Homo sapiens: one gene and its partners. The protein of the gene in region 6 purifies or fractionates together with the protein of the main gene of each other region. This does not show direct contact. Each region holds a gene or a part of one and is shown on either strand. Other genes may lie near its edges. The genes, in order: WDR1, ASNS, ARMC1, LRRC47, GALK2, GALE and ZC3H7B.

Evidence for each region.
Region 1: the proteins of GALE (region 6) and WDR1 fractionate together in Homo sapiens (co-fractionation; one large-scale study listed by BioGRID). This does not show direct contact.
Region 2: the proteins of GALE (region 6) and ASNS fractionate together in Homo sapiens (co-fractionation; one large-scale study listed by BioGRID). This does not show direct contact.
Region 3: the proteins of GALE (region 6) and ARMC1 fractionate together in Homo sapiens (co-fractionation; one large-scale study listed by BioGRID). This does not show direct contact.
Region 4: the proteins of GALE (region 6) and LRRC47 fractionate together in Homo sapiens (co-fractionation; one large-scale study listed by BioGRID). This does not show direct contact.
Region 5: the proteins of GALE (region 6) and GALK2 fractionate together in Homo sapiens (co-fractionation; one large-scale study listed by BioGRID). This does not show direct contact.
Region 7: the proteins of GALE (region 6) and ZC3H7B fractionate together in Homo sapiens (co-fractionation; one large-scale study listed by BioGRID). This does not show direct contact.

What each region holds. Positions count from the first base shown.
Region 1 is NC_000004.12:10,085,800-10,089,299, reverse strand, and holds part of WDR1 (WD repeat-containing protein 1), read left to right. Parts: intron 1-558; coding exon 559-636; intron 637-767; coding exon of another isoform or gene 768-926; coding exon 927-1,007; intron 1,008-1,359; coding exon 1,360-1,593; intron 1,594-3,500.
Region 2 is NC_000007.14:97,862,409-97,865,908, forward strand, and holds part of ASNS (asparagine synthetase [glutamine-hydrolyzing]), read right to left. Parts: intron 2,089-3,500; coding exon 1,851-2,088; intron 1-1,850.
Region 3 is NC_000008.11:65,624,178-65,627,677, reverse strand, and holds part of ARMC1 (armadillo repeat-containing protein 1), read left to right. Parts: intron 1-244; 5' UTR 245-279; coding exon 280-462; intron 463-3,500.
Region 4 is NC_000001.11:3,793,699-3,797,913, forward strand, and holds the start of LRRC47 (leucine-rich repeat-containing protein 47), read right to left. Parts: upstream 2,801-4,215; 5' UTR 2,779-2,800; coding exon 2,164-2,778; intron 1-2,163.
Region 5 is NC_000015.10:49,278,247-49,281,746, reverse strand, and holds part of GALK2 (N-acetylgalactosamine kinase), read right to left. Parts: intron 1-3,500. UniProt on the Homo sapiens protein: Acts on GalNAc. Also acts as a galactokinase when galactose is present at high concentrations. May be involved in a salvage pathway for the reutilization of free GalNAc derived from the degradation of complex carbohydrates.
Region 6 is NC_000001.11:23,795,099-23,797,754, forward strand, and holds the end of GALE (UDP-glucose 4-epimerase), read right to left. Parts: coding exon 2,597-2,656; intron 2,050-2,596; coding exon 1,936-2,049; intron 1,845-1,935; coding exon 1,778-1,844; intron 1,685-1,777; coding exon 1,599-1,684; intron 1,489-1,598; coding exon 1,411-1,488; intron 1,168-1,410; coding exon 1,053-1,167; intron 910-1,052; coding exon 851-909; 3' UTR 501-850; downstream 1-500. UniProt on the Homo sapiens protein: Catalyzes two distinct but analogous reactions: the reversible epimerization of UDP-glucose to UDP-galactose and the reversible epimerization of UDP-N-acetylglucosamine to UDP-N-acetylgalactosamine.
Region 7 is NC_000022.11:41,329,025-41,332,524, reverse strand, and holds part of ZC3H7B (zinc finger CCCH domain-containing protein 7B), read right to left. Parts: intron 2,503-3,500; coding exon 2,422-2,502; intron 355-2,421; coding exon 298-354; intron 1-297. UniProt on the Homo sapiens protein: May be a specific regulator of miRNA biogenesis. Binds to microRNAs MIR7-1, MIR16-2 and MIR29A hairpins recognizing the 'ATA(A/T)' motif in the apical loop.

The DNA of each region.
Region 1 (3,500 bases), on a different chromosome or scaffold from region 6:
CCATCTCTACTAAAAATACAGAAATTAGCCAGGCGTGGTGGCGGGCACCTGTCGTCCCAGCTACTCGGGAGGCTGAGGCAGGAGAATGGCGTGAACCCGGGAGGCGGAGCTTGTAGTGAGCAGAGATTGTGCCACTGCACTCCAGCCTGGGCAACAGAGCCAGACAGGGCTGGTGCCTCCAGGAAGAGGCCTCCTGGTCTCAGCCATCGTGAAGCTTAAGGATTGGGGCTTGAGCTCTTTCAGAGCCCAGAGGGAAGAGGGCAGCTGCTGGGGGCACCTCACTGGGGGGGGCATAACTGGAGGTGGTCTGCCTTCGCTCGGGCTAATCAGCTTTCCCAGCAGGTAGAGCGGTCAGCATGGCAGGCAGGCTGGAGCAGACTCCTGCCCCTCCACTAAGGGACTGCCCAGGATGTTTTTTTAAGCTCTGAAATTTTCCAGTGGACTAACAGTTCACACTGATGAACAGCTGGAGCTGCAAGCTGTGTTTCATAGAGAGCATTCTTGAACCTAGAGTCAGGCCTGCGGCCCCTCATCAGGCAGGTAATTGTTTTCCTGCAGGACCACAGCCGCTTTGTCAACTGTGTGCGATTCTCTCCTGATGGGAACAGATTTGCCACAGCCAGTGCTGACGGCCAGGTAAGAACTGGGATGGGTTTTGGGGTGGGGAATGGCTTGTCTGCCTGCTCCCGTGACTGCTCAGAGCCGCAGGCTGCCTAATGCTAGTCCTGACATGCAGAACTTAGACATCGCCCTCCCCACATCTGCAGACTCGTCGTCAGAGCCCAGTAAATGCATGTCTGCTTTTAAACCACACTGGGAGCTTAGTCTGTGAGCCCCGGTTTTCTACAGCCACAGTCCATGGAGAAACTGCTTACTCCAGAGGGTGTTCACACACACATGACCCACATGTTTTTATTTCTTGGAAGATATACATCTATGACGGGAAGACTGGGGAGAAGGTGTGCGCGCTGGGCGGAAGCAAGGCCCACGACGGTGGGATTTACGCAGTGAGTATGAGCGTGTTTCCCGGCCTAGTGGTGGGAATTTGGCCGAGTCCACGTGTCAGTCCATCCACACTCACTCCGGAGTTAGACAAAAACTTGAAATGAGGGGCTATAAGTCGGGGCGGTTTTATATCTGCCCAGAAAAGCTTTAAGGTCGCAATAAGGTGATGGGAGAAGGTAGTGGCTGGAACGGGAGACCTGGAGGCGGGTGTTGTCCTTGGCCTCACTCATGTCCCACCCTCTCTCTGGGCTCCTTCTGTCCTACTCAAACAGTCGCAGTGGACAAGCTGCTTTTTGGGGTCTCTCTCCAGTCTGTAGTCCTCTGGCACATGACACACTGCTTTTTTCTGAATAGATTAGTTGGAGTCCCGACAGCACCCATTTGCTTTCTGCTTCTGGGGACAAAACTTCCAAGATTTGGGACGTCAGCGTGAACTCCGTGGTCAGCACATTTCCCATGGGCTCCACGGTTCTGGACCAGCAGCTGGGCTGCCTATGGCAGAAGGACCACCTGCTCAGTGTCTCCCTGTCCGGGTACATCAACTATCTGGACAGAAACAACCCCAGCAAGCCCCTGCACGTCATCAAGGTAAGGCCTGCCCTGGGGAAGGCTCTGCCCGCTGGGTGGACAGGGAAGAGACCAGAGTGGCCAGCAAGGAAGGGGAACCGAGGGGAAGCCAGGTGGAAGCTAGAGAGGTGTCCTCAGGCCTCCTTGGCCCTTGGGGTTTTGGTGGAAGGCTGGGATGCTGGTTGCTTTCTTGGGACATGAGTTTAGCCATGGTGGCAGGCCAGGTGCCAAGTTCCCCTTGAGCTACTGTGAGAACTGGAGAGTCAGGGCCTAGTGATTCGGGGCAGTGGCCATCACCCCCAGCTGTTGAGAGCGGTTACTTCCTGCAGGGCTCTGCCTTCCCTGAATTGGGAGTGCACAGCCTGTGCTTTACCCGACTGCAGGCAAGAGCAGAAGCTCACTGAGCACCAGGGCAGGTGACGGGGCATCGCTGAGGTCCAGGGGCAGGAGGGAGGAGCAAGAGCAGGTGGCCTTGGGCCTGGGCCTTGGCGCTGCCTGGAGTTTGAATGTGGTGGGCAGGGTGTGAAGGAGATACTGGAGTTCCATAAGGGAGCGATGGGAGCAGGAGGAAACGGAGTTAGAATCATCCATGGGTCCCAGGTGTGAAGGCCCCAAATGCCAACCTGGGGAGGAGCAAGGTGCCTGCTTCTGAACCCTAACCCGGAAGGGTTCACTTGAGCCAAAGGCTCCCTGTGTTCCATTGGCTGGGGGGGTCCTGCCTTCTCCCTCCACCCACACCAGCCAAGTTGACGCCTCTGGGAATCTCGCAGCTGGACAGGAGCCAGAGCAGGGGTCCCTTCTGTATCCTCAGGTCCTCCTCTCACAGCAGCGCCCTCGCCTGCTTCCCACACTGCATCTGCTGGGAACTCCAAGTCAGGTTCCCCCAGCGCTGGTGGCCCAGGGTGGGTGACCCCTCCTGCTATTCTAAGCTGTAATATCAAGGCAGGTGGACAATGCACTTCATCCCAGCAGCCCTTCTCGGGCTCCTGCTTTAAGCCACTCGGGGAGACAAACCCTAGCACTTCCCTCACCCATTGCATCCTGCTGCCGTGGAGCTCTGGGGGACCAGCCTCTGCAGAGGGTCTGAACCCTGCAGGGCTAGTGTGGGCCAGCCTGGAGCAGCCCCCGGGCCTGTGCACTCGGCCCGTGCTGTGCTGTCAGTGGCTCCTTCACACCACGGCTTCTAGGAGGGGCTGCTAGAATCACCAAATCCATTCTACATGGGAGTTTGCCCACGAGGAAGGGGCCTCGTTAACGTTGTGTGTGTGACTCCTACGGACCAGGTCACCTCAACGCTCATGCATAGAGTCACGGTTCCTTTGTGCCGGGGCAGTGGGGGCAGCAGCACTGCTGAGAGGGGGAAGGCTGAACCATAAAGGTTCACTAGACGTGGCCTCGAGGATAGAGGGGAATCGGGAGCGCCTCCTTGCTGGGCTCACAGCCCAGGGTGATGAGTATAAAAAGGAAGGCACGCACAGCATGGGGCCGAGGAGGTTGTTGCCTGGGGGAGCTGAGGGCTCTTGTCGAGACCATGCTCCAGTGGGCCTCCAAGTGGGATGGTGAGAAATTGTACACGGGTGAGTAAGGCTTCGCTACTGCCCAGAAAAACAGTTTCCCATGAGCCATCCCCGACAGTGTTCTCCAGGTGTCAGCCCTCAGGTCTGCCGTCCCGTTTCTGTTGGCAGGGCTGCCCTGAGAGTGCTCTTCCTAATACCACTGCTGCCAACTGTCTGGGGCCAGTGCACCCGGCCTGCCACCGTGGCTAAACTTATGTCCCAAAAAAGCAACCAGCATCCCACCCTTCCACCAAAACCCCAAGGGCCAGTTGTCAAAACCCCCATGTCCCAACTCTCAAATGCCACACCTGTGTGAGTCACGCAGATGCTGATGTTCGGTGCTGATCTGGGCTGCAGTGGGATGGAGCAGCA
Region 2 (3,500 bases), on a different chromosome or scaffold from region 6:
AAGTGAGAGAGAAAGCAAAAAGATCAGTAATGACTGGGGGGTTAGGAGGAAGAGGACGGGAGGAAAGAATAAGTGGAGCACAGGAGATTTTTAGGGCAATGAAACTGTTCTACATAATACTGTAATGGTGGGTACATGGCATTAAACATTTGTCAAATCCAAAAATCTATAAAACACAAAGAGTGAACCCTTATGTAAACTATGAACTTCAGTTAATATATAAGTATCAGTTCATCAAATCTAATAAATGTAGCACAGTAATGCAAGATGTTAAGAGTGGGGAAAACTGGGCAGGGGCACTGTAGGGGGAGCATATGTGAACTCTCTGCACTTTCCTCTCAATTTTTTCTAAAACTGCTCAAAAAAAAAAATAAAGTCTATTATGTTTTTAAAATAAAATGATCCCTAACAGGAAAAAAAAATGGCAAAGGATCTGAACAAATATTTCTCCAAAGAAGATATACAAATGGCCAATAAGCATAAGATAAGATGCTGGACATCACTGTCAACAGGAAAATACAAATCAAAATCACAATGAGATACCACTTCACATACACTAGAATGGCTAGAATTAAAGTCACACACTGTTTGTGAAGATGTGGAGAAACAGAAATTTTAATACACTGCTGGAGTGAATAAAAAATGATGCAGCCATTTCAAAAATTAGTCTGGCAGTTCTTCAACTGAACATAGTTATCATGTGTCCCAGCAATTCTACTCCTAGATATACACCCAAGGGAAATGTCCACACAAAAACTTGTACACCAATGTTTATAGCAGCATTATTCATAATAGCCAAAAGGGGTAAATAATGTCCTAAATGTCCATCAACTGACAAGCGAATAAACAAAATGCAGTGTATCCATGTAATGGAATATCATTTGGCCATAAGAAGTAAGTACTGATACATGCTACGGCATAGACAAATCTTGAAAGCACTATACCAAGTGAAAGAATCCAGTCACAAAAGCCGGTATGATATATAATCCCGTTCATATGAAACATACAGAATAGGGAATCCAGAGGCAGAAAGACTGGTGATTGCCGGGGCTACAACTGCAGGGGTGCAGCTGATGGATATGGAGAGATGGAATTCAAAGCTAAAGGGCACAGGAGGCAGGGTGTTGTGGTGCATGCCTATACTCCTAGCTACTAGGGAGGCTGAGGTGGGAGAATCGCTTGAGCCCACGAGTTCAAGGCTGCACTGAGCTATCAAACCACCGCACTCCAGCCTGGGCTGGGCGACTGAGCAAGACCCCATCTCTTCAAACAAACAAACAAACAAAAACCTAGTTGATCCTGCCAGCAAAAACTAAGGTAAAGGGCATAGGATTTGATTTGGTTTTTTTTGAGGTGGAAAAACAATCCTAAAACTGATTGGAGTGTTGTTTACCAACATCTGTGAATATACTAAAAACCACTGAACTGTATACTTCAAGTGGGTGAATTACATGGTATGTGAATTATCAATAAAGCTGTTTTAGAAATCCTAACACTTGCTGTGCTATAACTGCGCAAAGTACCACAATGCAATAATTGCAGAGTCAACCCTACGATTATAGTATGACACAGGAAAACTTAAAACTGCACTTAAGATCAAGCTAGATGTAGAGCATATTAGCACAGCAAAAAATAAACGACTGCACTAAAGAATCATCCTTCAAGGATTACAGAATTTAAGTGCTGAAAAGGAGAGTACAACTCCTCTGTTTTTTTAAAAAAAGGTAAAGACTCATAACTTAGTCACTTGTAAAATTCTGGATTGCTCTCTAAGAGATTTTCAAATATAATTTAAAAGAAAACGTACAACCAAGACAATAATGAAAATCTATAGAAAAATTTATTATTACCTTTAGCTTCTGAACATACAGCCAAAAATCCATCTTCTGTCATTGCTTTAAACAAAGGTCTGACTCCATATGTATCTCTACCCAGGAACACTTTCTTATTGGCAGTATCCAGTAAAACAAATGCAAACACACCATCCAACATACAAATTGTTTGCTCAATTCCTCCTTTGTCATAAAGATGAAGGATTATCTCACCATCCACTTTGGTCTGGTATTCAAATTCAAAATGCTGTTGCATCTTAGGAAGCGAAAGCAAAACCAAAATGTTAGACTCCTTGTACATTCACTAATAATTTTTTATTGCAAAGATGCTTCAGTATTTCTGAGCTCTATAATCCTTTCATGCACTTTGGTGATTTAGGAGAATCACAGCATTATTAAACTATGGTTCGCTTCAACTCATATTCTGCAAATTCTGTTCAACATAAAGCCGAACCCATGAAAATTTTAGTTGCAGTCTGATAAACAGAACATAATGGGAATGTGCCAGAACAGTAACCTGTGGAGGGATGGAAATGTATATTATATACATACCATATATGTAATACATACATATATTTATATATATACAGATTGAGTATCCCTTATCTGAAATGTTTGGAACCAGAAGTGTTTTGTGTTTTGGACTTTGGAATATTTGCATATATGTGAGATATCTTGGGCATGAGACCCAAGTCTAAACATGAACTTCATTTATGTTTCATATATCTTATACACAAAACCTAAAGGTAATTTTATATAATATTTCAAATAATTTTGTGCATGAAACAAAGTTTGCATACATGGAACCATCAGAAAGCAAAGGGGTCACTATCTCAGCTACCATGTGGAAAATCTGTGGCTGTTTGACATCATTGACCATCATTCCTGACTCTGAATTTATTATGCTGCTGATGAGCAATCATTTTCATATGCTTATAAAATATGACATACCATTAATACAGTAAGAAAGTAATAAGTAGCATAGTAGAATCACCAGAATACCTGCATCAGCTGTTAAACAGCTGTACAAACAATGGCAGGCTTTCAGACTCCACCTACAATGCTGCGTTTTGATTAAAAGGTTACTATACACTGTATTTTTTTTTCCTTTTTCAGGTGAGAAGAAACATCAGAAGCAGCTGAGCAACTAGGAAGCGGGTCCTCTGAGATTGAAGAGGCATTCGGCCAGATGACTTTTAAATGTTTCTCCAGAGTCATCTGCTTCATTAACAATGGCTTTTGTCTTGGAAGGCTCTCTTTGATTTTATAAACTGACATGACCTCTTGTTCTGTTATGAATGCAGGTAGCTCTAGTCCTTCAATATCTCTATCACACATTTTCACCATGTCATCTATACCTTTATACTACAGTCCAGTTTCTCCTACAGCTTGACTTTCTGTGTTATAAGTGTTTCTACTTTTCCTTATCACTGCTGCTCATAGAAATATCTACAGGTCTTTTTGACATTTTCAGTATCTTAACACCACAGAGCAGAAAATAAGCAAAAATACACAATGGATAATGCACATAAGTCCCATCTGTGGGGATCCTGCCAATGGCGTATCCAGCTTGAACATGTGCCATTCTATTACCCTTTGTGGGCGTGCTTGCATGGGGAAATCCGGGCATGTGTAGAAAAGTTATACTGCAGCTGAAGCGGGCTGAGA
Region 3 (3,500 bases), on a different chromosome or scaffold from region 6:
AAACATAATTTATTGGAATATTGAGGACAACATATGTTCTTTAAACATTGTGCACACAAATTTTTTCAGTCGTCTTACGTTCATTTTACTTTTCTCAAACTGTAGAGTTGCCGATTTCTAAGTTTTTATGTGATTTAGTTTTAGTTACCTGATTCTTTCTAAAGGTGTTGTAATCCTGGTTATTTCACAAGTGCTATAATATACCTCAGCAGCCTAGAACTAATTCTGCAAACCTTTTCTACAGAATTTAAGATTTTATTCATGTGCATGGCATAGAAGATGAATTCTTCCACTTCCACCATGAGTGAAGAGCCTGACGCTCTATCGGTAGTTAACCAGTTACGGGATCTAGCAGCAGATCCGTTAAACAGAAGAGCCATCGTCCAGGATCAGGGATGTCTGCCTGGCCTTATTTTATTTATGGACCATCCCAACCCTCCAGTCGTCCACTCCGCTTTGCTTGTAAGTTGCCTTTAGTAATTTCAATCTCTGTTCTATTTTTGCAGTTAAGGTGAGAATTTGGAAAAAGTGCTAGATGACAAGGTAAAAAAACGGAAAGAGAGCAATTAGTTGTTTGTATTTATGTAGGTACAAACATATGTATGTGTGGTCTGTGGTCTGTTTACACCAGTGGTAACATGCTACATTGTTTTTATTCTTTATTTTTTTTTTTTTGAGTCATCTAGGCCTGGAGTACACTGTGGCAGGATCTTAGTTCACTGCAATCTCCACCTCCTGGGCTTAAACCATCCCCCCGACCTCAGCCTCCCAAGTAGCTGGGATGATAGGCACACACCACCATGCCAGCCAAATTTTTGATATTTTGTAGAGATAGGGTTTCGCCATGTTGGCCAGGCTCAAACTCCTGAGCTCAAGTGATCCTTCCACTTTGGCCTCCCAAAGTGTTGGAATTACAGCTGTGAGTCACCATGGCCAGCCTTGTTTTTATTCTTTTATACAAATTGTTGCATACTCCATGCATGGAATGTCCTACCACTTCCTTTTCATTTAACAATCTTGAGGATTGGATCATATCATACACAGAGACACTCAAAGAGGCACTTATTTTGTTTTTATTTTATAACAGCTTTTTAAGATGTAAGCACACAGCATCATATAATTCACTCATTTAAAGTATACAATTAAGTGATTTTAGTATATTCACAGAGTTGTGTGTCACCATCACCACAACTTTTTATTTTTATTTATTATAAATAAATTTTTTTTTTTTTTTTTAGTAGAGATAGGATGTAGCTATGTTAACTAGGCTGGTCTCAAACTCCTGGCCTCAAGTGATTCTTCTACCTCGAGCTCTCAAAGTGCTTAGATTACAGATGTGAGCCACTGTGCCCGGCCCACCACAACTTTTTATCTATTGCTTCCCAGACCCCAACACTCCCTGTCCCTAAGCAACTACTAATCTACTTTTTGTATGTCTATATTTGCCTATTCTGGCAAAAATGCCTATATATTTTGCATATAAATAGGGCCAGACGTGGTGGCTCACTCCTGTAATCCTAGCACTTTGGGAGGCCGAGGTGGGTGGATCACCTGAGGTCAGGAGTTTGACACCAGCTTGGCCAACGTAGTGAAACCCTGTCTGTACTAAAAATACAAAACAATTAGCCGGGCGTGGTGGTGGGTGCCTGAAATCCCAGCTACTCAGGAGGCTGAGGCAGGAGAATCCCTTGAACCCAGGAGGCAGAGGTTGCAGTGAGCCAAGATTGTGCCATTGCACTCGAGCCTGGGCAACAAGAGTGAAACTCCGTCTCAAAAAAAAAAAAAAAAAAGTTGTTAAAAAAATTAATGTTTTGGAAATTTTATCTATTGCCCTTTACTTAAGGACTCGTGATGATTCCCCATTTAGTCTAATTTCACAAGTTTGTACAGAAGGCATATAGACTTTTCCTTTTGGAAAAAAATTTCTATTTTGCCTTTACAGAATGAAGTTTAGCAGTCAAAAAAGACATTGGTGTAAGAGAACAGTAGTAACAAATGGGAAAAATGGCACAGTCCCCAGTCTGGGTTCAATTTCAATAAGAAATGCAAGAAGGATGAGAAGAAAGAGGGGGTTGATCTATAGATAGGGACTTGGGGCTAAAGGAAGTAAGTCTTTTTTATTTTTAAATAGACTAGAATATGTCTAAGTTCAGAGGGCAAGGGCTACTAGAATGGGAGAGGTTTGAGGGGAAGGCTCTCATAATTGCAGAAAATAGGAAAGATTTGCTAACTGAGGAGAATGATAAAGTTGTTCAGCAGTGTTGAGGGCTGATTAGTTTGGTAATACTGAATCGATATGATTCAGGCCTGTTGTAGGCTCACAGAGCCAAGTACTTGGATTTGTCTAGAGTTGTTACTTGGCCAGGTTAAGTTGGGCAGAATGATTGTGCAAGGGAGTTTAGGATCTTGGCAGGATTGGTTGAAATGATATACAGTAGATACTAGGCTGAATAGGAAGGGAAGTATAAAGTCATGGAGGGACAGAGCTAAGGAGAGGGATCAGTGAGTGAAAGTTCCCAAGAGGCTGAAGAAAAGATTTTTTTGTTGTTGTTTTTGAGACAGAGTTTTTGCTCTTGCCACCCAGGCTGGAGAGCAATGGCACAATCTTGGCTCACTGCAACCTCCGCCTCCTGGGTTCAAGCGATTCTCCTGCCTCAGCCTTCTGAGTAGCTAGAATTACAGGCCCGCACCATCACATGTGGCTAATTTTTGTATTTTTAGTAGAGACGGTTTTTCACCATGTTGGCCAGGCTAGTCTCGAACTCATGACCTCAGGTGATCTGCCTGTCTTGGCCTCTCAAAGTGCTGAAATTACAGGTGTGAGCCACCATGCCTGGCCATTGGGTGTGTTGTTTTTATGATTTCCTTTTTTCGTCACTGTTAGCTTATTAGTATACACTTTTGTTTTTATTTTAATTTATTTAGTGGTTGCTGTAGGTTTTACAATATGCATCTTTAACTTCTTACAGCCTACCTTTAAATGAATCATACCCTTAACATGTAGTGTAAGAATCACACAAGAGTATATTTCCATTTCTTTCTCCCATCTTTTGTGCTATTTTTGTCATACATTTTACTTCTACATATGTTTAAAAACCTACAGTGTATATATTTTTGCCTTAAACAGTCAATTATCTTTTAAAGAGATTAAAAATTTAAAAATGTCTTTTTTTTTTTTTGAGATGGAGTCTTGCTCTGTCACCTAGGCTGGAGTGCAGTGGCGCAATCTCAGCTCACTGCAACCTCTGCCTCCCGGGTTCAAATGATTCTTCTGCCTCAGCCTCCCTAGCAGCTGAGATTACAGGTGCATGTCAGCATGCCTGGCTAATTTTTGTATTTTTAGTAGAGACAGGGTTTCGCCATGTTGGCCAGGCTGGTCTTGAACTCCTGAGTTCAGGTGATCTGCCCCCCTCAGCTTCCCAAGGTACTGAGATTATAGGCGTGAGCCACCATGCCTAGCAAAAAAAGGTCTTTTATATTTACCTTCATTTTTACATTTC
Region 4 (4,215 bases), about 20 Mb from region 6:
GTCTGATCAATGGCTCTACCTGAAACCAAAAAGAGCTCCCCGCAGCCCCAGCCAGAAGTGACTCAGTAAGCAGGACCGTTTCCCACACCCCTATGATTGCACCTCAACCAATCAGCAGCAAGCACCCGTTGCCTAGCCACCCTCCCCTTTCCCCAAACTATCCTTGAAAAACCCCGCCTCCAAATTTTTGGGGAAGCTGATTTAGTAATAAAACTCGGCCGGGCGCGGTGGCTCATGCCTGTAATCTCAGCACCTTGGAGGCCAAGACAGGCAGATCATGAGGTCAGGAGATCGAGACCATCCTGGCTAACACAGTGAAACTCCATCTCTACTAAAAATACGAAAAATTAGCTGGGTGTTGTGGCGGGCGCTTGTAGTCCCAGCTACTCGGGAGGCTGAGGCAGGAGAATGGCGTGAACCCGGGAGGCGGAGCTTGCAGTGAGCCAAGGTTGCACCACTGCACACCAGCCTGGGAGACAGAGCGAGACTCCATCTCAAACAACAATAATAATAACAGTAAAACTCCAGTCTCCACTTTAGCTGGCTCTACATGTGTAAAACTTTCTCTATTGCAACCCTCCTGCCCTGATAAATCAGCTCTATCCGGGTAGTGGATAAAATGAACCCATTGGGCAGTTACATCAGTAACCATGTGTCACTCTACAGTGGGTTTGTTTTTTTTGCCACAGGGTCTCGCTCTGTTCAGGCTGGTATCACAGCTCACTGCAACCTCCACTTCCTGGGCTCAAGTGATCCTCCCACCTCAGCCTCCCGAGTAGCTGGGACTACAGGCACGCGCCACCAGGCCCAGCTAATTTTTGTATTTTTGTAGAGATGGGGTTTCACCATGTTGGCCAGGCTGGTGGTGTGACCTCAAGCGATCTGCCCGCCTCAGCTTCCCAAAGTGCTGGGATTACAGGTGTGAGCCACCGCGCCCGGCCAGGGTTTGTCTATATATCCTTATATAGATATGTTACTTGTAAAATGAGTTGCAATGTCTTGAGGAATTGCTACAGCAAATAAATAGATAAGCTGCTAAAGTGTATACGTATTTTATTAAGAAATGTCCACATAGGCCAGGCGCGGTGGCTCACACCTGTAATCCTAGCACTTTGGAAGGCCGAGACAGGCGGATCACATGAGGTCAGGAGTTCGAGACCAGCCTGACCAACACAGTGAAACCCGTCTCTACTAAAAACACAAAAGTTAGCCGGGCGTGGTGGTGTGCGCCTGTAAGCCCAGCTACTCAGGAGGCTGAGGCAGAAGAACCGCTTGAACCCGGGAGGCGGAGGTTGAAGTGAGCCGAGATCGCGCCACTGCACTCCAGCCTGGGTGACAGGACCAGACTACATCTCAAAAAAAAAAAAAAAAAAAAGAAATGTCTGCATAAATTCAAAGACGAAAAATGGGGGAAGAAATGCAGGACTGCCTTAAGGATGAAACCAAAAGAGAAGATGGAGAGAACATCTGGCTGGGTTTAGGTCGTGGTTCTGCCATGTGGCTTCCCTACTTTCTTTTAGGCAACAGATTCAATGGGCACCTGTTATAGGCCAAGCATTATCGCGGGGCCTGGGGATCCAAGATTAATTAGTAAACAGACGCTGGACAATATAGTCTGGAGAAAAACCCAAGTTACCTGCTGCTTACTTTGGGCAGGCCCTTTGGCTTTCTGTAAAACAGGAATAACCACCCCTACCTTGGAAAGCTGCTATTAGGATGAAGTGAAATATAATCTTCAAGATCACAGCATGTGGCATTATGCAAAATCCAGGGTGCCCCCTTCACCACCAGACTCACTCTCAAGTCACTTCACAAGTACTAGATACAAAAAAGACAGGTCTCTACGCTCGATCTACAGGAGAAGCCAGGTTTGCTAACAATTACAAAATAGCGTACCACGTGTAAAAGTCCAGTTAACAGAATGCGGGGGAGTTCAGAGGCCACCTAGTATGTTGGTGTGGCCAGGAGAAGGGGGAGTTGGAAGGCGGCATCTGCTTCCCAGGGGTGATGCCCCCCGCAGCTGGCTCCTTTCAGCCTTGTAGGAATTCCCTGGGCCCAGTGCCCCAGGGGGCGTCACTAGGAACTGCTCGGCCCCGAGAGGGGTTCCTTCTCCAGGGCTACTCCAAGGCCCCATCCCGCCCCGCCCGGGCAGCCCCCGCTGACCTTGAGCGAGGCCAGGTGGGCGATGTCGGGGCTGAGTTCTCGGAGGCAGTTGTCAGCAGCCGCCAGTTCACTGAGCAGGGGCAGCGCGCCGGGGCGAAAGAGCTCGGCGGGAAAGGAGTCTAGGCAATTGCCGGTGAGGTTGAGGCTCTGCAGGCGCGGGGCGCAGCGCGCCAGGTCGGCTGGCAGCTCGCGCAGCCGGTTGCCGCTGAGGTTGAGGCTCTGCAGCTGCGGAAGGCCCGGCGGCTCGGCGGGGCCCAGGCCTTGGCCCGGCGGCAGCGCCTCCAGCGCGTTGCCCGACAGGTCGAGCACCCGAAGGGCAGGCAGCGGCCCGAGCTCGGGGCTCAGGCCGGGCCCCAGCGCGTTGCGCCGCAGCACGAGGCTGTGCAGCTGCGGCAGGCCCTGCGCCAGGCCAGGCCCCGGCGCGCGCAAGCTCCCGCAGCCGCTCACTTCCAAGTAGTGCAGCAGCGGCAGGGTGAAAAGCCGCGGCGGCAGCTGCCCACCCGCCGCCCGCACTCGCTCCTCCAGCCCGGGCCCCGTCAGCAGCAGCTCCCGCCGCCGCTCGCGCTCAGCCAGCTCCAGCTCCGGCCAAGACTCTGACACCGCTGCCGCCGCCATGGCGCCTCAGCTGCTGGCAGGCACCCACCCACCAGGGTGCTTCCGGGGCAGCGCGCGCCACTTCCGACCTGTGCCGGAAAAGCCCATAGAGAAGCCACCTGGCTGCTAGAGTGCCGCCGCGCGTGCCATAGAGGAGAGTGGCCTCTCCTGCGTAGAGCCGGGGAGGGGCTGGAGAGCGGCTCGCTCTCTCCGCGGGTAGGGGTGAGGGTGGGGGTTATGAACCCAAAAATATCTGAGACAGGACTCAATGAAATGTAAAAAGTTTATTTTGCCAAGGTTAAGGACACGCCAGTGTCACAACCCTAGGAGATCGTGACGATGGTGCCCAGGGAAGTTGGGATGCAGCTTGGTTTTGTACATTTTGGGGAGACGTGAGACATCAATCAACACGTGCGAGTGTACCTTGGTTCAGCCCAGAAAGGCTGGACAATTCCAGGAGAGGGCTTTCAGGTCACAGGTAGAGAAGAGACCGGAGGGTGCATTCTTTTGAGTCTTTGTTCAGCCTTTCGCTGACTGCACAATTTATTATGCATGTGAGACGCGGGTAGAGGAATAGTCGCTTATGCTTTAGTCTGGCTTACTGAATCTTCATTTCTACGTAAACAGTAGAGCAAAGGAAGCGATCAGATATGCATTTGTCTAGGTGAGCAGAGGGATGGCTTTGAGTTCAGTCCTTTGTCTCGCACCTGTGAAGGGAAGCTATCAATTTGCATTGCCAGGGTGAAATTCAACAGAACTGTTTTAGGGTAAAGATCTTGAGGCCCACAGAGAATTTCTTTGTGGGCAAATTGTGAGGGAGGTGTGTAGCTTTAAAAATATGTATTTGTAACTATCTTATTTAGGAATAAGACGGGAGGCCGATTTGCCCGAAGCAGTTCCCAGCTTGACTTTTTCCTTTGACTTAGTGATTGTGGGGTTTTGAGATTTATTTTCCTTTCACAGGGTGGGGTGCGGGCGGATGGAGGAGCCAGAGTCTGTGCTCTACTGTGCCCCGACCGGCTTGTTTTGGAATTCCTGCACTTTTGAGTGGTGTAAACCAAAACCAAAATTCTTTTTTTTTTCTTGAGACGGAGTCTCGCTCTGTCACCCAGGCTGGAGTGCAGTGATGCTATCTTGGTTCACTGCAACCTCCGCCTCCTGGGTTCAAGCAATTCTCCTGCCTCAGCCTCCCGCTGGAACTACAGGTGCATGCCACCGTGGCCGGTTAATTTTTATATTAACCGTGTTAATATAATTTTTATATTAACCGGTTTTCGCCATGTTGGCCAGGCTGGTCTCGAACACCTGACCTCAGGTGATCTGCTCGCCTCAGCCCCCCAAAGTGCTGGGCTCACAGGCACAAGCCACCGCACCCAGCCCCCAAATTCTTATTTATTTATTTATTTATTTATTGAGACAGAGTCTTGCTCTGTTACCCAGGCTGGAGTGCAGTGGTTC
Region 5 (3,500 bases), on a different chromosome or scaffold from region 6:
CATCCCTAATAGTCTCCACAGAGCAAGCAGTTTCTACCATCTTTCTATTTACTCTATCCTTCCCTAGACTGGTATCACTGAAAATCTCATATGGGCAATCATTCATTTTTGCCTCAGCTTCCTTTGTCTCCCAACAGTGAACTACTATTCCACAGTCTACCCATAACCAAAGTGGGGTCATTAAACTTTATTTTCCTGTCCAAAAGTAATGAAGTCTCTCTGGCATTTCCATTAAATGTAAGAATCAGAACTGGTGTCATCTCATCAGGCTCATCTTCCTCCAACCAAGATGTTCTAACCCAAACTGAAAATCTTGAAATATCTGTTTAAGAATCTTTAATGGCTTCCTATTGATTAAGAAATAAATCTAAACGCCTCAACCAGGCATTTCGAAGGCTTCCAAAATCTGGGACCATTATGCATACGAAATTGTATCATTTACCATTCTTATCCAGTTAGATTTGTCTCTTTGACCACTTCACACATGTTTATGCAACTTGGTATTACTTCCTGTCTTCTGTCCTGTATAAATTGTACTTTTGTCCAATATCCAGTTTATTGGCTAGCTACTATAGATAAATCCCTGGGCTGACCACTCAAATCTTTCTTCATGGCCCAGCACTGTGGCTTACGCCTGTAATCCCAGCACTTTGGGAGGCCGAGGTGGGCGGATCACGAGGTCAAGAGATCAAGACCATCCTGGCCAACATGGCGAAACCCCATCTCTACTAAAAATACAAAAATTAGCTGGGCATTGTGGTGCATGCCCGTAGTCACAGCTACTCAGGAGGCTGAGGCAGGAGAGTCTCTTGAACCTGGGCAGCGGAGGTTGCAGTGAGCCGAGGTTGCACCACTGCACTCCAGCCTGGTGACAGAGTAAGACCCCTTCTCAAAAAAAAATAAAAAAATAAAAAATCTTTCTTCATCATGGAGTCTTCTTCGAATATTATTCCCATCATGGTGTCCCCTTTTTCTAAACTCCTAAAACATTTAAGTTAGTATCGTCTAATACTCACACTACTATTCATTCATTCATCTATTCAGTTTAATTTATTGTAAGACTTTATTCGGGCCCTTATTTCTGTTTTACTATATGATGTTTCTAGAATAATTATTCTGAAAAACTGATATAATCATCTCTTGCCTGCTTGGTTGCCAACACCTTAATGCTCATACTCTACAGCATGGTACACAAGGTCTTTAATGACTTAACCCTAGTGCACTTCTCCAGCCTGCTCTCCCACCACTCCTCCTGTAAATCCTAAGCTCCAGCCATGAGGGATACTAAACAAATGCTGTTCTTTACTACCGCAGGCTCTTTCACATCTCATTGTCTTTACAAATATGATTTTCCATTCTCTTCACTCAATACTCCCCACCGCATTCCCAACTAGTCAACAATTCAAGCAGCACCTTGCCGTGGAACCTGCACCACCACCCATATGCATACATACCACATAACTCCTCCTCAGCACTCCCTGTTAATAACTCTATTATCATGTATTGAATATGCTTTAAGTGTGGCTCTACTTGTCTTTTTATCTACATGTCTGTGAATCACAGTGTTATTATTGCTCCTTAATTGTTAATTGTTTCATGTTTCTATCACATCTGTTTCTTGTGAGAGATGAATAAAGTATGGTGTTTCTTTTGTGTCCCCTACTTCACATAATGCCGAACACATAGTAAATATTAATAAACACCTGCTGCTTTCAATTTCTGAGAATAGCTGCCCAAACACCATCTGACAGATTCTGCAAGTGTCATATTCCTTGTTGGTCATGTGGATTCACTAACATTAACTTTTGTCTTGTGACATGAGGTAAACTTAGGATTTTGATGCAATAGGCATTGTTCATAGTCTGCTGACACACAGAGCCAGTGTCCATAATATGTACATTAAAAATAAATTAGTAACCAAAAGATCAAAACACTTGGATTTAAAATGTAGAGAAACAACATACCCAGATGAAGCAGTACATTCATCATTATGTAAGAGATGATGGAACCTGGGTGCCCAACTAACTGTGACCCTGGGCCAGTGTAAAAAGTCCCCTCCCCTCAACAGCAATAACAGCCACATTTACTGAGTCACAGTATGTGGTAAGTATACTAAGTACCTTGCATTATTTCTTTTGTAAGCATTATCTCCTTCAAACCTCCAAACAAAGTTCTGCTTATCCCCATTATAGACATGAGAAAAATGAGGTTTAGAGATATATAACCAGAAGTGGAAGTGCCAGGATTTGAACCTCACCTGACTCCAAAGCCTGTATTCTTTTCTCACTGGACTTCAACCAGTCCCTGCAAAATGGAGATGATGTAATCTATTTTTCACTACCTCAAAGGGATATGAAAAGACAAATGAGATTCACCAAAATTTAAGTATCCTCCCTCTTAAGAGGAAAAAACCAGAACATTGAGAAGTTTGAGAAATTTATGCTTATTAATTATTTTTTCCATGTATTCATATTCTATTAACAATGCTAATAGTTTTAGTAGTTAAGGTTTATTGAGCACTTATTATGTGCTAGGTAGTGTTCTAATTGCTTTGCCTGAATTATTTATTTCTCACACAACCCTACTGATATGGTTTGGCTGTGTCCCCACCCAAAAGCTCATCTTGAATTGTAATCCCCATAATCCCTACGTGTCAAGGGCAGGACCAGGTGGAGGTAATTGGATCACAGGGTTGGTTTCCCTCATGCTGTTCTCATGATAGTGAGTGAGTCTCGGGAGATCTGATGATTTTATAAGTGTCTGGCATTTCCCCTGCCTGCACTCACTCCGCCCTGCCGCCCTGTGAAGAAAGTACCTGCTTCTCCTTTGCCTTCTGCCATGATTGTAAGTTTCCTGAGGCTGCCCCAGCAATGTGGAACTGTGAGTCAATTACATCTCTTTCCTTTAAAAATTACCCAGTATCAAGTATTTCTTCACAGCAGTGTGATAACGGACTAATACACCTATAAAATAGGTCTCTGTGGCTTACAGATTAGGAAACTGAGTGGGTTTATTAGCTGAGACTAGGCTAGTAATTATTAAAGATATAATCCAAACTCAAATGATCTGACTCCAGCACCCATAATCTTAACCACCACCATATATTACCTCCTATCCATAATAAGGAGAAAAATACCCACCTCCCTAGCCACAGGATTATTGTAATGATCCAAGAAACTAAAGTTTAAAACTTCAAATAAAAGCACCTTATAGTGCTCTAAAGTACTACACAGTTGGTGTTATCTTTACATGATGAATAAGGAATCATCTGATTTACATAAAAAAGCAGCCAAGTCCCAAGCCAAATGTAAAGACAAGTTATAATTACTATAGAATACAAGACCATTTTTTAAGTGTTCAGGGAAAGAGAATTTAAAGAATCTGGATTCCTCTAAAACAGCCAATTCAACATTAAGGAGTAATGAAGCCTGAGGCAAACAGGAAAATATATGTCCAATTGTGTTTTATTTTTGTTTTTGTTTTTTTGAGTCAGTGTCTAG
Region 6 (2,656 bases):
CCCATGGGGCCCCCCCAGGCCCCTGCCCCAACTGATTCTGCCCAGATAATCGTGTCTCCTGCCTCCACTCAGCTGCTTCTCAGTCATGAATGTGGCCATGGCCCCGGGGTCCCCTTGCTGCTGTGGGCTCCCTGTCCCTGGGCAGGAGTGCTGGTGAGGAGGTGGAGCCTTTTGAGGGGGGCCTTCCCTCAGCTGTTTCCCCACACTGGGGGGCTGGGCCCTGCCTCCCCGTTACCCTCCTTCCCTGCAGGCCTGGAGCCTGTAGGGCTGGACTGAGGTTCAGGTCTCCCCCCAGCTGTCTCACCCCCACTTTGTCCCCACTCTAGAGCAGGGAGGCAGTGGGGGAGGAGTTGTGTCTCGTCTTCTGTCTCCATGTGGTTTTTGGGTGTTTTTCTTGTTGTGTCCTGGATTCCGATAAAATTAAAGAAATTGCTTCCTCAACGCTCAGGCCTGGCTGATTCTATTCCAGGGGTGGATAGTGACCATCTGTGAGAACCTGCCCCAGTGTAAGAAAACTTGTTTTTATTTTTAAATACTTTGGAAAGCTCTTTCAGAGCAATATAAATGAGTGCCTGGGAGGAGGAGGTTTTGTGCCAGAGCCTTGCCCCCTCACTCACTCTTGGGGGTCCTGATGAACTCTTGGACCCTGTGGAAGATAAGAGTTAGAGACCTCGGCCTCCTGGTCAGTGGAGCCCTTGGCCTCATGCCTGGTGGGCTAAGCGGGCCCAGCTGGGGTTTGAGGTAGGGGAGGCCTTGGCTTGGCCCCAGCAGCTCCAGGGCCCTGAGTTCCTGCCAGAGGCTGGAGAGCAGGCAGCTGCTGCTTTTCCTGGTCCTTGGTAGGGGAGGGTCCTCAGGCTTGCGTGCCAAAGCCTGAAGGATTCTGCTTCTGCCAGCGCCAGAGATCCTCACCTGCAACACGGCGAGGTGTGTGCTCAGGGCCCACGGTGGAATGCAGAGCCTCCCCCACCCCACAGCCCGCCCTGGGTGGGCATGCCCAGATCTGATTTAGCCCCTCCCTGGCCCCTAACTGCAGGGGTCAGGCCAGCACTCACACATCCTGTCCAGCCCTAAGGCTGCTGTCCACCCCAGCTCCTCTTGGGCCAGGCTGGGGTTGGCGTAACAGGCTGCCACATCACCTTCCCGCCGTGCCACCACCTTGTACGGGATCTGCAAGACAGGAGGTAGTTGGAGCTTAGCTGAGCCGGCCCTGGCCCAGCTGCTGGCCAGGTCTTTAAGAAGCAGAAGTGCAGAGCAGCGGCTGGCCCGCAGGCACCGGGTGCTAGGCAGGCTGAGGAGACTGGGCAGTGCCAGGTACCCTCCAGAGAGGTGAGTGGGAAGGGCCAAAGCTGCTCTGTTGCTGAGAGCTGGGTGGGGTGAGGTGGGTGAGGTGGGTGGGGCGGGGGGGCCTACCTTCTTCCCAGAGGCCTTCTCCATAGCCTGGACCATCTGCAGCACTGAATAGCCTGTGCCCGTGCCCAGGTTGTAGATCTGGCCCACGGAGAACAGGGTTTATGGAGCGGGCTGGACTGACCACGCCTCTGGGCCGCTCTGCCTGGATCTGGTCCCTCCCCTCCCTCACTTCTCCCTTCTCTTCCTACCCGGCAGCCACACTGTTCTTTCAGCTTCCTTAAGGCTGCAATGTGGCCCTTGGCCAGATCCACGACATGGATGTAATCCCGGACACCTGCAGAGAAGGGAGTGTGTTGGATGGGGAGTCTGTTCCCCCTGACTCTCCTTCCTGGCTCCCACTCCTAGGTCCCCCTGGTCCTAGGCTCACCTGTGCCATCCTCTGTGTCATAGTCATTGCCAAAGACATTCAGGGCCTCCCGTCGCCCGATCGCCACCTGGAGGTGGAGATCAGGTCAGTTCGTCCCAGATCCCAGGCACCAGCTTTAACCCCAGGGCCACTCCTCTGTCCCTTCCCTTTTGCCTTACCTGGGAGACATAAGGCATGAGGTTGTTGGGTATGCCCTGGGGATCCTCACCAATGCAGCCAGAGGCATGGGCACCTGTGGGGTTGAAATAGCGCAGCAGCACTGCGTTCCAAGTCTGTGGGATGTGGGTCAGGTGGTGAGGCCAGAGGCACAGGCAGCGTGTCCCAGCTGAACCCAGAGCCCTCCTCATGCCTATTCTGTTTTTTTGAGATGGAGTCTCACTATGGCCCAGGCTGGAGTGTAGTGGCCTGATTTGGCTCACTTCAACCTCTGCCTTCCAGGTTCAAGCAATTCTTGTGCCTCAGCCTCCCGAATAGCTGGGACCACAGGCACACACCACCATGGCCGGCTAATGTTTGTATTTTTAGTAGAGATGGGGGTTTTACCATGTTGTCCAGGCTGGTCTTGAACTCCTGACCTCAGGTGATCTGCCCACCTGGGCCTCCCAAAGTGCTGAGATTACAGGTATGAGCCACTGCGCCCGGCCAGTTGTCTATTTATTATCTTTAGAAACAAGCAGGGGATGGGGCCCTCCACTGCAACTGCCTGAGCCTTAGCTTCCTCCTTAGTGGGGGTGTTCGGAATCCCACCCCTGGGCTCAGGGTGGGCCCTGAGGAGTCCATCGATCAGTGGAGCCAGGGCACTGTCAAGGGGGCCCTCACCTTGTCTGCCTGGCACAGGTCCCGGATCATTTCCTCGATGAAGAACTTGGACTTGCCGTA
Region 7 (3,500 bases), on a different chromosome or scaffold from region 6:
GCAGGAAATGTGGGGCAGGAGGCAGAAGGAAGGCGTGTGGGACCAGGCTGCCCAGACTGTGTCCTGGCCAGGGTTCAAGAGTGAGGCTGCCCCCGGCGGCTCCCCGGCAATGACCACTCCCTGCCAACAGCAGCCATGGCCTGTCCCCACATCCTGCCCCCGTGGACACGGGAGGTACCTCCTAGGGAGGCGGAGGCCCCTGGACCCACTGCCTGAGGTCATTTATACCCGGAGAGAGTGAATCCAAACCTCTCATAATGGATAAACTGAGACAGGTTGGTTCAGCCCCGATCCTACCTGATCTGCCACGCCAGCCGCAGTGCCGTTACTGAGCAGAGAAAAGGTTTCCAATTCCTGCCAGAGATTGGAGAGAGGTGGGCAGAGGTAAAGATTCTGAAAAGATGCTCAAGGTCCCCTTAGCTGGGGCAGCAAAGAGGCCCTGACACAAGCAGCTGGGGTCTGCAGCGCCCCCGAGAGTCCCTGTCCCCAGGCCTGCCGGAAATCAACTGCTCTGTCTCTCTGGGTCAGATTCTGGGGTTTTCTTCTTCCAACCTTGACCTGGGCAGAGGACCTCCCTGCACACCTCTACTGTGTGTCAGGCACCATGCTAGGCACCATCTCAAACATTCTATTTTTTTATTTGTTAATTTTTAAATTTTTTCTGAGACAGAGTCTCACTTTGTCCCCTAGGCTGGATGCAATCTCGGCTCTCTGCAGCCTTGACCTCTGGGGTTCATGTGATCCTCCCACCTCAGCCTCCCAAGTAGCTGAGACTACAGGCATGCACCACCACACCAGGCTAATTTTTGTACTTTTTGTAGAGATACGGTTTCGCCATGTTGCCCAGGCTGGTCTTGAACTCCTGAGCTCAAGCAACCTGCCCACCTCGGCCTCCCAAAGTACTACGATTATAGGCATGAACCACTGCACCCGGCCCATTTGCTCTCTCTTTTTTTTTTTTTTTTTTTTTGAGGCAGAGTCTCGCTCTGTTGCCCAGGCTGGAGTGCAGTGGCACGATCTCTGCTCACTGCAAGTCCCGCCTCCTGGGTTCACACCATTCTCCTGCCTCAGCCTTCAGAGTAGCTGGGACTACAGGCGCTCGCTACCACCCCCGCTAATTTTTTCGTATTTTTAGTAGAGACAGGCTTTCACTGCGTTAGCCAGGATGGTCTGGTCTCGATCTCCTGACCTCGTGATCCTCCCACCGCGGCCTCCCAAAGTGCTGGGATTACAGGCATGAGCCACCGCGCCCGGCCTTTTATTTATTTATTTTTTTTGAGACAGAGTTTCGCTCGTTGCCCAGGCTGGAGTGCAATGGTGCGATCTTGGCTCACCGCAACCTCCGCCTCCCGGGTTCAAGTGATTCTCAGCTGGGCGCGGTGGCTCACGCTTGTAATCCCAGCACTTTGGGAGGCTGAGGCGGGCGGATCACGAGGTCAGGAGATCGAGACCACGGTGAAACCCCATCTCTACTAAAAATATAAAAAATTAGCCGGGCGTGGTGGCGGGCGCCTGTAATCCCAGCTACTCGGAGAGGCCGAGGCAGAAGAATGGCGTGAACCCGGGAGGCGGAGCTTGCAGTGAGCTGAGATCGCGCCACTGCACTCCAGCACTACAGCCTGGGTGACAGAGCGAGAGTCCGTCTCAAAAAAAAAAAAAAAAAAAAGTGATTCTCCTGCCTCAGCCTCCCGAGTAGCTGGGATTACAGGCATGTGCCACCACCCCAAGCTAATTTTTGTATTTTTAGTAGAGATGGGGTTTCTACATGTTGATCAGGCTGGTCTCAAACTCCTGACCTCAGGTGATCTGCCCGCCTTGGCCTCCCAACGTGCTGGGATTACAGGCATGAGGCACTGCGTCCAGCCCATCCATTCTCTCTTTTTAATCCTCCCATGAGCCCTCTGGGGTGGGCATAAATTATCTCCATCGTCCAGATGAGGAAACCAAGGTGGAAAGAGATGAACTAACTTGCTCAAGGTCACAGCAGAGACTCGAGTCACGAGTTTCCCTTGTGCAGCCTCCTGGCCCTCGGCAGGTACCAAATGAATCTATGTGGAACTGAACCAGCCAAACAGATACCAACACTTCAAATTTGCACCATATGGGTGTTGAGAACATAATGCTGAAGGACGCCAGTGTCAACTCAGGCCACCTCCAGGTGACTAAAGTCAGCCAGCACAGGGGAGGGAGTGGTTTTCAACAGTTGGAGTCTAAAGTGAGCTAGAAGCGGTGGCTGCTCTCTCCTTTTCCGAAAGGTTCCAGGGCTTTCAGCCAACAGACAAGGAAGATCACCTGCTGTCACTCCCCTCTGTCCTAACCCAGCCCTGGCCACCCTCACCCACCTTCCCCACGGAGCCTGGTCCCTCCCTTCAGACCTCCTCACGTCCACACCGACCCTCCCAGGGTCCCGAACCCACCTACCTGGGGCCTCTTATACGCCTTGCGAACTCGCAGCCCCAGTTTCTGGGCCAGCTCCTGACCAAGCTGAGTCACGCTTTCATCCTGCAGAGGACAAGACACAGGGCGGTGGGTCAGTCTGCCCGGGCTCACAAAGCTGTGCTCCTGGACACCTGTGCAGCCCTACGGAGGGAGGTCATAGTCACCCCATGTTATAGATGAGAAAGTGAGGCCCCAGGAGGTGTCCCTGGCTTGTCCAAGTCACACAGCTAGTGAGTGGTGGCACCAGGACCACCATCCCATGCTTCTGTTTTTCCTTTTATTTGGGGATGGAAAATGAATCATTTTGTTTTTATTTTAATATAATCTTTTTATTTCTAAAATTCAGCAAAAGTGACAATGTCACTGTAGAAGGGAAGAATGTTACAGGGACAGCAAGTGCTCCCTGGATCTCCCCCTTCACCCTAGGCTTCTCCAGGAGGGAATCACACTCTGCTGGGCTGATGTGTTTCCTTAGGGCTCTTTTCTAGGAATGCATGCATGCAGACCTATAAAGAATGCTTACTTCTGGCTGGGCACAGTGGCTCATGCCTGTAATCCCAGCACTTTGGGAGGCAGAGGTGGGCGGATCACCTGAGGTCAGGAGTTCAAGACCAGCCTGGCCAACATGGTGAAACCCCATCTCTACCAAAAATAGAAAAATTAGCCGGGCATGGTGGTGGGTGCCTGTAATCCCAGCTACCTGGGAGGCTGAGGCAGGAGAATCGCTTGAACTCAGGAGGCAGTGGTTGCAGTGAGCCAAGACTGCGCCGCTGCACTCCAGCCTGGACGACAGAGCAAGACCCTGTCTCAAAAAAAAAAAAAAAAAAGCTTAGTTTTGTTTTGTGGGGATTTGGGGATTGTCTCTTTCTTTTTGATTTTTTGAGATGGAGTCTTGCTCAGTCACCCAGGGTGGAGTGCAGTGGCGCGATCTCAGCTCACTACAACCTTTGCCTCCTGAGTTCAAGAGATTCTCCTGCCTCAGCCTTCGCGTAGCTGGGATTACAGGCATGTGCCACCATGCCCAGCTAATTTTTTTTTTTTTTTTTTTTTTTTTGTATTTT